Homo sapiens: one gene and its partner. The protein of the gene in region 2 interacts with the protein of the main gene of each other region in a pairwise test. Each region holds a gene or a part of one and is shown on either strand. Other genes may lie near its edges.

Region 1 (7,000 bases), on a different chromosome or scaffold from region 2:
ATAAGACCCATGGGAACCACAAAATAGAACACCAGCCCCTCACCAGCGGAAGCCACTTCCCGTGGGGCCTGGCACGGGAGGGCGCCCACTGAAACTGCAGCTGGAAACACAGACAAATGGAGGGACAGCAGTCAGGCAGGTGGTCCCCAGGGCGGACCACCACAAACAGGAAGAAGCCGTGTGTTCCAGGCCCCCTGCAGCTCATTTCCATCTGTCAATCTGGTAACCTCCCTGTCTTCCCACAACAGGAGCCTTCTGGGCCAGTCCTGGATGTGTGTCCCTGAATCCCCAATAATGGAGAGAAGGGAGGGGAACTGGCTTGGCTGTCTTGACTCAGCCGGTGGAGAACCCTGGGGAATTCCTCCACTGAGCCAGCAAAGCGGGCCCCACAGGCCACCATTACTCACCAGTCTGTCCCGTTTGGTGGCCCATTCCAAAGACAGCAGCGGTGATTTGGAAATGGAGGATGCTTTGGTCTGCATGATGGGGTTGAAGGACCACACTTTGATGACCCCATCTACGTCTAAGCTGGCGACTCTCCTCCCAGAGCAGTCCACTCTGAGATGAGAGAAAAGGGAGGCCTGTCAGCTGGCCTCTCAGTCCCCATCCTCTTCTGCTAATGCCAAGATGATCACTTTCCTGACTTCCTTACTGTTTTAAAAAAACAATCCCTAGAGGTCTACATTCAAAGGACTGGTATAGACTATTTCTAGAAATATTCATTCATTCGTTTGTCTAAGAAATACTTATTAAGTGCCAACCATGTGCGGAGCTTTTGGTCAATTCTGGGCAAAGAGCCGTGAGCAAGAGTTGCAGGGCCCTGCCCTGAGGCCATTTGCAGTCTCTGGAGATTTAGAGCCTCCAACTCACACTCCAGAACAGCCCAAGGGCCCCAAGAGCCATCAGGGCTGTCAAAACGAGAAACCCATCTACAGCTGAAAATTATGCCCCACCAGGGTTTGTTCTTGAAAGGTTTATACTGTGCTTAAGTAAAAACTTACAAATGGTAAATTACAAATCAGGTATTTACCTAAAAGTACCATCATAAAGCAAATTAAAATTGAGTGAGTTTGGGGGGCTAAAATAAAGTGTAACTTGTTCCTAAAACTGAGAGAAACACAATTAGAAAGGGCAGAGAGGCCCGGTGCGGTGGCTTACGCCTGTAATCCCAGCACTGTGGGAGGCTGAGATGGGCAGATCACTTGAAGCCAGGAGTTCAAGACCAGCCTGGCCAACATGGTGAAACCCCGTCTCTACTACAAATATAAAAATCAGATGGGTGTGGTGGCAGGCATCTGTAATTCCAGCTACTTGGGAGGCTGAGGCACGAGAATCGCTTGAGCCTGGGAGGGCAAGGTTGCAGTGAGCCAAGATCGTGCCACTGCACTCCAGCCTAGGTGACAGAGCAAGACTCTGTCTCAATAAGGAAAAAAAAAAAAGGGCAGACAGGCTGACCAGTCCACTGGCAGCTCCAACCGACTCCCATGACTCTACTGCCATGACTGTGGCCCTCGTCCAAGCCCCCATTCTCCGCCATCTCCTGCTGGCCACACCTCCACGTGTACTGCCTGAAAATCTGAGCTTCCCAGGGTTTCCTTGGCCCCAGGCCCAACCCACCTGCAGTGCATGATGGATGAGTGGTGTTCCCCGTACTCCTCCTGTCCCAGCACAATAAAGGGCTGCTCGGGGCGGACTCCTCCACCCTCAGGGCCTGCCGAGGATGCCCGAGTCAGTGGCTCCACTGGCTCCGTGTGGAGCTCTGGGCAGGGCTCAGCCTCTGGGCCACTGGCTTCTGGTTTCTTCTCTGCACACTGTCACAAGCAGGGTGGGGACAAGTCAGCCAGGAAAGGGTCCCCCACACCAGGGTGTACACCGCAGGGGGTCTAGGCCTAGGCTGCAGCATTTTGCGGGGTTCTCGGTAATTACAGAGTGGAGAGGAGAGCTCTGACCTGCGAGGGTAGTGCTCAGCTCACCCTGGGAGAGTGCAGGGCCTGCCCTCCTGACAGCCCCTTCCTGGAGACTTTGCTCCACACAGGCCCTGCTGAAGGAGAGGGGGCTGTGGCCTCTCTGTGACACAGCTGATGGGACCCAGGACACACATCTGCCTTGACAACAGGCCAGGCGGAGGATGCGTGGTGCAGGCCACACACCGCGCTGAGTATTTTACAGATTTCTCTCATTTAGTCCTCCTCAAACAATGAGATGCTATTATCTTCCCCATTTTACAGCTGTGGAAACTAAAAGACTGAAAGAGAAGCCAAATCCCTTGCCCAAAGTCATATGGCTGGCAAGGGGGAGAAATTGGATGTGAAGCTGGGTGGGTAAGAGGTAAGCCCGGCCCCTTTCCAGTGCACCCCTAGGCCCACCAGCCCTCCTGGGAGGTGGGCACTGAGAAACTAAGAAACAGACACAACTGGCCAGGAAGAAAGACAGAGACCCAAGGGCCACTGGGGGTCCAAGGCTGCCCCATCTCTACGTCCCTGGGACAGCAGGTGTTGGCTACCATCTGGTGCTCACCTAGACACAATCCAGGCTGGGGGCATCGGCCAGGGCACTCTCTACCAGCCCTGGGGTCCGGATGCTCCTGCAAGTGCTTCCTCAGAGAGGCAGGAGGAGGAGTTCAACAATAAAAAAAAATAACAGAGGAACTTCAGACATTATGGGGCTCTGGGTGGCCCCCAAGTGCATCTTGAATCCTGAAATGCCAGAACTTATGATCTGAGCCTTAGGGGTCTGTTGTCACCACAGTACCAGGCTGTTAATGAGGAAATACCTTTAAAACAGGCAAATAGCCCCAATTATGAGATAAATGGTGAAGACAGTGACTTGGGCAAGAGAACCAGTAAATACCTTAGACTTTGCCATCAGTCGGGAGTATCTGGCAGAAACAGAAGCAGCTGTAATGCCACAAAGAGCAGGCTGTGGCCCACACTGGCCAGTGAGGGGAGTCCCCAGAGCCCAGGGCTCAGTACAGAAGGGCCTGGGCCACAGCCTCCCACTGTGTGGGCACATGGCCCTCAGTGCAGCAATACAGGCAGCTGGGCCTCAGGCAGCACAGGAGAAAGGAATCCTGTGACCAAGCAAGTCTGGGTGACTGGGTGAAACCGAGGGAACCAGGTCTCCAGGAGCCCACCACAGGCTGCTTAGCACAATTAACCTAAGGGAAGGATGAGTATGCAAAGGTTCCCAAGCCAGCTTAATCACAGAAGTCATCTTCTGAGAGCACTTCTAGAGGCCTGCATTTTCTGGCCCCTACTTAGGGAAATGCTGCATGGGAGAAATGGACCACAGAAAAGCCAGGCAAATGATGAACCCAAATAACCAAAATACAAGCCATTGAAACCAATTAAGCAAAAGCACACTCTGCACAGCTGCAGAACTCAGAAGAGAGAGAAGAGAAGACCCCCCACAGTGTTCCTCAGTAGCTGCATGAGTGTCCCCAGGGGTGTTCAGGACAACCCCATACCTGGGAAGTGGTTGTGGAGAAAAGCTCCTTCCTCTCCTTGCCATGGTCCTGCAGGCGCCGCTGCCGGTGCTGTGACCAACCGGACTCCCCAGTGGCCAGCCCGCTGAGGAGGCTCTTCCCATCCTTGGCTCCGGACGTCGGGTCCTTTCCCTTGGTGCCCTAGAGGAAAAGAAGCTGGCTGTGAAGTCTCTTCCCATCTGCCCAGGCCATGATAAGCATGCCAGGAGTGGTCAGCCCTGGGCGGGGGGGCGTGGTGGGTTGGGGGCAGGTGGTTAAAATGGTGTTGGCTCAGCTATGTAGGTGAGGTCATAGTCAGCCCCTGCTATGACCTCCTCCTTTCTGTCCTCTACCCGTTAAGAGGACAGGTCACCTGCAATCCTCATCCTGCGGTATCTCTCATCTGGAGGAAGATGTCATCTTGATCTAATCGGAACAATTTAGTCTAGTTGAGGGGAAGGAGCCAGCACTTACTAAGTGATGACTAAGGCAGGCCGGGGCCTACGCTTGGTGTTATACACATTTACAAGCAACAATATGTTTGGGCAATCTAAAAATTATTTATGCAACAAGCAATCACCTCTGGAGGGAAAAGGAAAAGGAACACAGTACCCTCTCTTGTTTTGGGCCAAGTGTGGACTAAACCAGCTAATATTAACAAATACTGAGGTGTTTGAAAATGATTACTAGAAAACCAGAAATTTTTAACAGAAATTGTTGAAAACCCAAGGAATGTTAAGAAAGATAAATCGGACAGGAAATAAACCGGTATTTTCTGGCTCCTTTTCATAACAACAGTGATAGGGTCAGCTAAGTTATAGCAAGAGGGGATGAATTTGATCATCCCCACCCCACCTGTATAGAGAGAAGAAGTCTCCATTCTTAATCTAGAAACTCTTAAAAGGAGCTGCCACCCCCACATCTTTCCAGATTGCTGGGCAGGGCTCTCTTTTTCCAGCTTTTTACCCACAAATTGTGATGGCCAAACACCCTCACCCTCATTTTTTACACTCTTAGCAAAGAGATATGAATGCAAACAGCTACTCAGGTTTGAGACCAATCTTCTCAAGAAACCATTTCTACACAAGCCCTAAGTGAAGAGAAGAAACTCAACCAAAGTCTACCTGCTGCTTTCCAGTTCTTCTACTTGTTATTTTTTATGTCAACAGTAAATAATTTAAAATGATTAACATGGATTCCTTGGAATCCTGCAGCCATGTGAACAGTTAAAAGAAAATTTTAAAGGACTATTAGCTTACCTGGAACCAAACCATGACTAACCTGCAGGGTATTTACTATTTTTGGCCTGTTTATAAACTTCAAGTACTTCCGTGAACAAAGAAAGGATGGTAAACCTGTCTCAATCAGCCACAAACACATTTAATTCCAAGTATCAGAATTGTGTCAATAACAATTGTGTATGGGTCCTGGGAGGACAAAAGCCACGGAGAGGTAATGTCCACTCCTCAGAGTTTCAGAGAGATGGAGTGGGGAGGTGGCCTGTTGGAGTTGGCTGTCAAGGCTAAGATCTGGGGAGGTGGTAGGCAGTTGTGTCGTGTCCTGTTTCAAGACAAGGCTCTGAAACCCCCGTAAGAAGAAATCACTGAAAATGCAAACACTGAGCAGCCACATCACAGTCCAGGAGGTGCCGCTTCCACATTTTGTGCTGCTACATGTATGCCGTGCTCTACATGGGTCACAGGGGGATTCTGCCTTGGAAGCAAAGGTGGGAACTGTTACAGAGGGAGACAGGCACTTTATGGGCCCCTTCCTGCCTTATTCAGCCCCTCCACTGGATAATGGTGTCTTTTCCTTTTTCAGCAACAGTAAAGAGTGCTCAATCAATTGGTGAATATTGATGGAAGGAGGAGGCTTCGAATTCCTCTGGCTTATTTGAAAGCCACTTGTAACACTTCCCCAGCAGGAGCAAACAATAAAACACTGAGAAGTACAAAGGTAATACTTCCCTCACAAGTCAAGATAGCAAGGAAGGCATCTGGTACAGAGAAGAACTACCTTTACAATGATAGGGCAGTTTACGCCAAGACAGTGATGGACCTAAGCATGACCTATCAGATTTTGCTTTAAAGAAGAGGATAGGTTCTCCTTTCTCCTTAAATCTATGTTAATCACTGAATAACAAAAGATAATAATATATTAAAAGCTGGTGAATGCGGTTGTCCACAAAACTTTTTAATAAGTAGGTGAAGGCCAATTTGTGTCTAGCCACAAATGTACAAAACAAGTGAATGCTTACTGGCAACTGTTAATTTTTTAGAAATAAAAGGCTAAAAAATAAAAACAAAGGAAAAAGGGGTAAAGTCACAATGCTATGTAAGTAATTACCTTCAAACAAATCCATAAAACTCTGGCCAAGCACTTGTGTATGGGTAAAGAGCTGGAGAGAGTGAAAGATGCCGGCAGAACTGTGTACTCTCTAGACAATGACACTTGCACACAGAGAAGCTTGCACCCTTCTGGAAGCTTCTTCTACTGTGACCCTACCTTACACATCTTTGTAACCTTAGCACCCAGCACCACGCCTCGCATAAGCTGGGCACTCATTCATGACTGGCTAAATAACAAATGGATGGACTGATGGACAGATGAAATAACTGTTCATTGAAAGTTTTATTTCATTTTAAGTGCAACCCTCATAATAGTCTTTAACTGCTGGCTTCAAATAACAGAATATCCCAATAGTCTAAAGTATATTCTATCATAATCTACCTGACTGCTACAGTTCAGGAGAGACACGGTAACCTCTGTCTTATCATTTGACCTTCTCACTCTGGAGACAGACATAAGTTGATACCCATTAATTTCCGGTGGAATGAGTAGGTCATGAGGGATTCCAGAGCCTCACAGAGCTTACCAGGATGGCAGCCATCCAAATGGAGCAGCAAACAACTTCCAGTAATTTGGTCTCACCTGAAGCTAAACAAAGCTACCCAGAAAACACGCCCTCATAACACAGAAATCCCAGAATGAAAGACAGGCTTTCTCCTTACTGCCAAGATCCTTGGGGAAAACCTTCAGGGCAGTGGTTGTGACCACTTACTTCTCAGTAACTGGGAGGTAATTTGACACTAATAACAGTCACAAGCACAGAAGTTTGTGGATGCTTTGGTGCCTTACATTACAGCCGATTAAAAGTTATCTCTATAATGAGGTAATTTCCATGGCTCACCAAGTGGGTGTGAAAGGAGCAGAATTCTTGCTGGTGGGAAGGATGGAGTACAAACTACAGGCTGTGTGAGCCAAGCAGCAGCCCAGGCAAGCCTGCTATGGATGTGCCCTCCCGGCTATTGTAATTAGAGATCCTAGAAGGGCTTGGGAAGTGTGGTTTCGCAGTTATTTCCACTAAAAAAAAAAAAAAAAAAAAAATTGCCTCCAGACTCATATTGAAAGCCTGGAGAGTATCTGCCAGGCTTTCAATACAAAAGCAATCTATTTTGCATCTGTTTTGCCATCTATTTTACAGGAATAATGCTATGAACGTTTCAGTAATAATGACAACAGGTACAGCAACCAATT
Region 2 (7,587 bases):
TCCTTCAGCACCGCGCCCAGCTGCTGCCACAGAGCAAACACCAGCTCGCGCCCCTGGGCCTCGTCCTCCACACGCCTTGCCTGGTACAGGAGGATGAATCTGTGCAGTGCCGGGAAGTAGGGTGGGAAGGGAACCACGGAGCTGAAGGGGCTGAGAAGCTGGCTTGGGCAGGGTGGGGGCAGGCCCTGGGAGACAGGCCTGTACTCAAACAGTTGGTCCAGCTTGCCCCTCTCTGCTCCCATGGGGACTTCGGGGCCACTCATCTGCAGGAGTGTGTCCAGCACGGGCTGCAAAGACACAGGGACCTCCTTGGGGTGGCGCGTGCAGAGCCCTCGGACAGCCTGGAAGCGTACCCACAAAGGTGCATCGGGCTGCAGCGTCCGCACCCTGGTGGCAAACACCATCTCTGCCAATAGGACACCCAGCGCCTGCATGTCCCTGTGGAGTAGGCACTGCAGTGGCACAGCCGGCTGGACCCGGGGCTGCTCAGGCACCTCCAACAGGCCCCCTAGGCCTTTGGCCAAGAAGTTGCCCGTTTTCTCCAGCTCCTCCAGGGCCTGCATGGGATTGAAGCCCTCGGGAAGAAGAATCCTCCCCTCCTCACCCTCCCCAGGGTCTGCCCCAGCAGCTTTATTCCTGCGGCCTGGACGGGAGGCTGAGGCCACTGAGAAAGAGAGAAGTCCAGGGGACGCTTGACTGGAGGAGCCCAGCTGGTCACCTGCTTTCCCAGCAAGGGAAATGGAATCCAGAGCTTCTGTGGCCTGTTCCAAGTCGTCTTCTCCTGCCACCGGCCTGTCTCTGGTCCAGCTAGCCTCACAGGGAGTGGCCTCTAAAACTGGCCGGCCCACTCCATTTGGAAGCTGTCCCGGGTTTTCCGTGAAGTCCTCCCGGCCTGTGGTCTCCTGGATGGTCTGGACCAACAGCTTGGGGATGAGGGGAGGCTCGGGGGCAAGGGCAGGAGCCCCAGCCAGGCGCTGGGGGTGTGGCTGATCGAAGAGCTGCACCACCCCGTAGCTGGCCAGGTGAGTGTGGGCGTCCACCAGGTGCAGACACACATTCTTTTCCTTGACAGCCTCCTTACCCTGGAGTTTATAGCCAAACGTGAGGTCGATCCAATGGTGCAGGTCCCGGGATACCTCGCGGCTCTCCAGCAGGGCTCGGTGGGCAGCTACGAACTCCTGGCTGGAGCTGCACCAGGCTGGCACATCCAGGTCAGGCATGTCGGGGTGGATGGAGCGGAAGATAGAGGGATCGGTGTAGAACTCCGGAATGCACTCATCCGGGGTCCAGTTCTGCATCCGCTCCATGCTGGCCGGATACTCATGGGGCTCCCACTGCGCGCGGACGTGTCCGCAGAGCACCGACCGAGGCGTGCGCCGAGCCTTGTACACATAGTACGTGATGTCGGAGAGCACGTCTGAGATGTGGTGGGGAACATGAGGGGGTTCCCCGCCGCCCGCCCCGCCTGCTACGAATGCCTGCCGTGTCATCTCATACGTGAAGTCCAGTTGCTTATCCCCCTTGTTGAGGCGGAACTTGGACTTGCGCAGGTCTCGGAAGCGCCCATGGGGCGTAGTGAAGTCCACCACCCAGGGCAGCACGGGGTGGTAGTTGGGGTCCCCCTGCCGCCGACCTGCCAACCGATTCAGCTGCATGAGGTAGTGGAAGTTGCTGATGCGGCCGTGGACCCAATCTAGCACGAGGCTCCGAAGTTCCTCCTGGCCAGTGGGTTGCCCAGGTTGCCCTCCCTGCTCCTCTTGAGACACAATGCCCGCCTCATCCCTTGCCACAGGGGCCTCCTCATTCTCGTCCTCCTCGGGCCTCTCATAAGCACTCAGGTCCAGTCGCAGCTCGCTGCAAAGCTTCTCATCCACTGCGATGTGATACAAAGACAGGGCCCCACACGCCAGCCCCTGGCGGTGACAGGCGTCCATAGCCCTCAGCACGCGGAAGAGAATGAACAGCACCTTGGCCTGGCTGTTGGTCAGCTTGGCAGGGCTGAAGGTGACCACGTCATGTAGGGAGAACTGTACGTAAGGGTGTACCACATACAGCATCTCCGGCGACTCCAGCAAGGCCTCAGCCCGTAAAAGACTAGGGCAAGCAGGGCTGCCCCGAGGGGGGCAGGGGCCTTCTCTGGCATATGAAGGGCATTGGGTAGTTTCACCCACTGGCAGGAAGGAGCAACCATAGACCCTCTGCAGAGCCTGCCGTACTGAGTCCAAGGCAGGGACAGCTGAGGGGGCAGGGCTGTGACTGTACGGCTGGCCGTAAGTGTGGTATGCATGGCGCCACAGGTTGCGATAATTCTGGGCGGCAACCTCCTGCATGAAGCGAGTGAGGGTCTCAGGGCCGCAGGACCCGTCCTCAAAGGGCAGGCCCCCGCCCAGAGGGTAGGACAGTCTCCGCTTCCGCAGCCCATGCACCTCCACGCGCGTCCAGCCGGCAGGCAGCCTTTGCACAGAGCGCTGCAGGAGAGTCCTGACTTCCGCTTCTCCCAGGCCCTCTGCGCGGGGACAGGGTCCCAGGGGCAGCCGGCGATCGCGGAGGCTGGCCAGCCAGCGCGCAGGCACTAGGGCCACCACGTGGGTGCCCCCCGGGGCCGGAGCCAGCTGCCTGGGATCGATGCTCAGGTCCCTCTCCACGCTCCGGAGCAGCTCCTGCATGTCTGGGCTTGGCGGGGAATGCCAGCCCCCGGCCGGGGTTCTGAGAGCGCCTTCCCGCCCCCCGCTGCCCTGGGCCATCTCCTCCAGGCCGCCCGGGGGCAGCGCGGGGCTGAGCCCAGCCACGGCCCTGCTGGCGACGGCTTCCGGGGTGCCAGGCCGGCGGGGCTGGGATGGGCGCGGGACAGGGGCTGGGGCGGAGGCGGCCGCAGGAAGCCGGCGGCGGCGAAGAGGCGGACGGGGGGCGCGCTTACCCCTCCGCGGGTCCTGCGCTCCGGGCGCGGCGGGGCAGAGGCTGCCGGGCGCGAGCACCGGGCTCCACCGTGACGGGTCAGCTGACGCGGGTCACGTGATCGCCCCAGCACGGAAACAAGCGCACGTGGCTCCAGAGGCCCGGGCGGGACCCCGCTTCCTGCCCGGCGGCCTCCCCGCCCTCCCTCCCGCTGCTCCGCTCTGGCTCGGTCTGGGCTCCGCTTCCTCCCGGGGCTGAAAGGGTCTCCAGCCAGCTCCAGCCGGGCCCGGCGGAGGGCGATGCCTACCGCCCCACCCCTCCCTACTCCCTCCAGCACGCACCAGCGCGCGGGTCCCGGAGGCTGTTCCCAGAGATGCCAGCCTCTTAGTTAAGTGCGGACCGCACAACCAGGGGCAGAACTGGGACTTCTGTTGTGTCTATTTTTGAGACGGAGTCTTGCTCTGTCGCCCAGGCTGGAGTGCAGTGGCGCGATCTCGGCTCACCGCAACCTCTGCCTCCCGGGTTCAAGCGATTCTCTTGCCTCGGCCTCCCGAGTAGCTGGGACGTCAGGAGCGCGCCACCACGCCCGGCTAATTTTTGTATTTTTTAGTAGAGATGGGGTTTCGCCTTGTTGGCCAGGCTGATCTCGAACTCCTGGCCTCGTGATCCACCCGTCTCGGCCTCCCAAGGTGCTGGGATGACAGGCGTGAGCCACCGCGCCCGGCCAGAACTGGGACTTTTGACATGGAATCCCCCCGGCGCCTCCATGCCACCTTCCATAGGAAGGAGCTTTTTAACTTTCCTAAGTACTTCAACAGTCACATTCCATTTGGCCCTCGCAACACACTCTGTGAGGTAGGGAGGACAGTTATTACTGTTTATATTTTACAAGTGATAACCAACAACCGCCAGAGAGGCTTGTCCGCCTGGCGGAATGGAGACTTAGAAACTGGTGCCAGCCTTCTTTCTGCCCAGGAGCACTGCCTCCTGACAGCCCTCTCACGGCTTTTTAAAAAACAAAACTGGCCGGGTGCAGTGGCTCACGCCTGTAATCCCAGCACTTTGGGAGGCTGAGGCAGCTGGATCACGAGGTCAGGAGATCGAGACCATCCTGGCTAACACGGTGAAACCCCGTCTCTACTAAAAACACAAAAAATTACCTGGCCGTGGTGGGGGGCGCCTGTAGTCCCAGCTACTTGGGAAGCTGAGGCAGGAGAATGGCATGAACCCAGGAGGCAGAGCTTGCAGTGAGCCGAGATGGCGCCACTGTACTCCAACCTGGGCAACAGAGCGAGACTCCGTCAAAAAGAATAAATAAATAAATAAATAAATAAATAAATAAATAAATAAAAATAAATAAATAAAAATAAAACCAAATAAATAAATAAAAATAAATAAATAAAATAAAATAAAAATAAAACGAAACCCTGGGCTGTCTGAGGGAGAGAAGTGGCCCAGGCCCAGAGGCCTGGTGTTTTGGGGGAAGAAATGTTCCCCCAAGACTTCCTGTTGAAGATTGGCCTCTGCGGTACCACAGAGCCTGCCAGCTGTGGTCAGAGCCTCCAGATGTCACTGTGGCTGGGGGAAGGGTGCGGCACAGGATATGGAATAGAAACCAGACAGCCGGCACCAAAGCAACATGATTCCTCAAGGGGTCTTAGTTCTGACTCATCTGCAGGACAGATAGACCATTGTCTACAGTGAAACCACTGGCCCTGTTTCTTTTGTCTCCCTCTTAGGAGAGAGTTTGCCTCTTGAAGGAGTTTGGTGTACAGGTGTGAGGGTCCCATAAAGACACTTAGGAAAACTAGGCCTTGGCCGGTCACGGTGGTTCACACCTGTAATCCCAGCACTTTGGGAGGCCAAGGTGGGCGGATCATGAGGTCAGGAGTTCAAGACCAGCCCGGCCAACTTGGGGAAACTCCATCTCTACTAAAAACACAAAAAAATTAGCCGGGTGTGGCAGCGGGTGCCTGTAATCCCAGCTACTCAGGAGGCTGAGGCAGGAGAATCGCTTGAACCTGGGAGGCGGAGGTTGCAGTGAGCTGAGATCACACCACTGCACTCCAGCCTGGGTGGCAGAGTGAGACTCCGTCTCAAAAAAAAAAAAAAAGAAAGAAAGAAAAGAAAAGAAAACTAGGCCTGATAGGAGAGAAAATAGGAGGGCCGGGTGCGGTGGCTCATGCCTGTAACCCAGCACTTTGGGAGGCTGAGATGGGCAGATCACCTGAGGTCAGGAGTTCAAGACCAGCCTGACCAACATGGAGAAACCCCATCTCTACTAAAATACAAAAATTAGCCAGGTGTGGTGGCGGACGCCTCTAATTCCAGCTACTTGGGAGGCTGAGGCAGGAGAATCGCTTGAACCCAGGAGGCAGAGGTTGCAGTGAGCCAAGATAGCGCCACTGCACTCCAGCCTGGGCAACAGAGTGAGACTCCATCTCAAAAAAAAAAAAAAAAAGAGAGAGAAAACAGGAATGTCTCAGCCATGATCTGATTTCATCTGTCTCCTCTTCCTTGAAGGGTAGCTGGAGCCTCTCATGTGCTTGGTCATATGATCCTGGGCAGTAGTAACTTACAACAAACTTGTATGGAGCATTACCAGGAGCTAGTCATCTGTTAAGCATTTTGCATACCCTGTTTTGTGTAATCCTCACCACCCCTTTTAAGAAGATTTTTTTTTTTAAGACAGAGTTTCGCTCTTGTTGCCCAGGCTGGAGTGCAATGGCGCGATCTCAGCTCACCGCAATCTCCGCCTCCCGGGTTCAAGCGATTCTCCTGCCTCAGCCTCCCTAGTAGCTGGGATTACAGTCATGTGCCACCATGCCCGGCTAATTTTTGTATTTTAGTAGAGACAGGGTTTCTCCATGTTGGTCAGGCTGGTCTCAAACTCCCGACCTCAGGTGATCTGCCTGCCTTGGCCTTCCAAAGTGCTGGGATTACAGGTGTGAGCCACCGTGCCCGGCCTGATTTTTTTTTTTTTTTTTAAGACAGAGTCTCACTCTGTTGCCCAGGCTAGAATGCAGTAGTGTGATCTTGGCTCCCTGCAGCCTCGACCTTCCAGGCTCAGGTGAACTTCCCACCTCAGCCTCCTGAGTAGCTGGGACTACAGGAATGTGCCACCACATCCAGCTAATTTTTTGTATTTTTGTAGTAACCAGGTTTTGCCATGTTTCCCAGGCTGGTCTTGAACTCCTGGGCTCAAGCAATCGGCCCATCTCGGCCTCTCAAAATGCTGGGATTACAGGTGTGAGCCATGGTGCCCGAGTGATTTTTTATTTATTTTTTTTGACACAGGGTCTCACTCTGTCACCCAGGCTGCAGTGCAGTGATTTGTCACAGCTGACTGCAGCCTCGACCTCCCCAGGCTCAGGTGATCCTCCCACCTCAGCCTCCCGAGTAGTTGAGACTACAGGCAGCGTCACCAAGCCCAGCTAATTTTTTTTTTCGAGACAAAGTTTCGCTCTTGTTGCCCAGGCTGGAGTGCAATGGCACCATCTTGACTCACCACAACCTCCGCCTCCCGGGTTCAAGTGATTCTCCTGCCTCAGCATCCCGAGTAGCTGGGATTATAGGTGCCTGCTACCACGCCTAGCTAAATTTTATATTTTTAGTAGAGCTGGGATTACAGTCGTGAGCCACAGTGCCCAGCCCCAACTTTGATATAAATACCTGAAATCAGAGGATATGTTTTGATGGTTAGAAGGTAGTGCTTGCTTCTTAGTACCAATAGAGCTGGCTGGGTCCACCTGTTCTTTGCGCTGGTCTCAGTTTACCTAGATTGAGCAGGTACTACTTTTTCTGTCTGCAAGTCTGTGTGTGCCCTGCCCTCTAGCGGTACTGGGGTTACACTGCAGCAGTGACCTTGAGTGTACCTAATTTTACCTCTTGAAATTCTCCTTTCCTCCCGAGAATAGAGATGTCCTAGCAATATTGGGAACTGGCGCACTGGGATTCCTGGGGCCTCAAACCCTGGCCCAATCTGAGCCCTAGGGCAGTAGTTTTCAAATTTTAGGGCATAATTCTTTTTTTTTTTTTTTTCTTGATACGGAGTCTGACTCTGTCGCCCAGGCTGGAGTGCTGTGGCACGATCTCGGCTCACTGCAACCTTCACCGCCCAGGTTCAAGCAATTCTCCTGCCTCAGCCTCCCGAGTACCTGGGATTACAGGCGCCTGGCTAACTTTTGTATTTTTAGTAGAGATGGGGTTTCACCATGTTGGCCAGGCTGGTCTCAAATTCCTGACCTCAGATGATCCGCCCGCCTCCGCCTCCCAAAGTGCTGGAATTACAGGCGTGAGCCACCATGCCCGGCCCTTTAGGGCATAATTCTAATTCAGGAGTCTGGAGTGAGATACAGCTATCTAAATGTTTAACAAGTACGCGAGGTAATTCTGATGCAGCAACCTTCAGGCTATGTCTTGAGAAGTAACGTCTGTAACAGCTCTCTTCCGGAATTTCCCTCTCACTGCCCCCAGTAAGCGTGTTCCCTGAATCCCAATGCAAGCACCTTTGGGCTCTGGGGAATCTCAGACCAAATTAGCCGCTCCCCTTGGCCAGCCTCAGTATTGGGTTTCCGGGAGGTCATGTCTTGGATAGTCAGGGACAGAGGCTGCAGCTGCCCCACCAGTCAGCCCATGTTGAGCGGGGTCAGCTCTTGCTAATCCGGCAGGGAGAAAAGTAGTGCACCAGCT

Evidence for each region.
Region 1: the proteins of WDR81 (region 2) and WDR91 interact in binary tests that used the Homo sapiens proteins (3 or more experiments, as listed by UniProt).

The regions. Positions count from the first base shown.
Region 1 is NC_000007.14:135,194,527-135,201,526, forward strand, and holds part of WDR91 (WD repeat-containing protein 91), read right to left. Parts: intron 3,626-7,000; coding exon 3,467-3,625; intron 2,594-3,466; coding exon of another isoform or gene 2,518-2,593; intron 1,812-2,517; coding exon 1,618-1,811; intron 559-1,617; coding exon 408-558; intron 101-407; coding exon of another isoform or gene 44-100; intron 1-43.
Region 2 is NC_000017.11:1,720,117-1,727,703, reverse strand, and holds the start of WDR81 (WD repeat-containing protein 81), read right to left. Parts: upstream 3,001-7,587; 5' UTR 2,745-3,000; coding exon 1-2,744. UniProt on the Homo sapiens protein: Functions as a negative regulator of the PI3 kinase/PI3K activity associated with endosomal membranes via BECN1, a core subunit of the PI3K complex.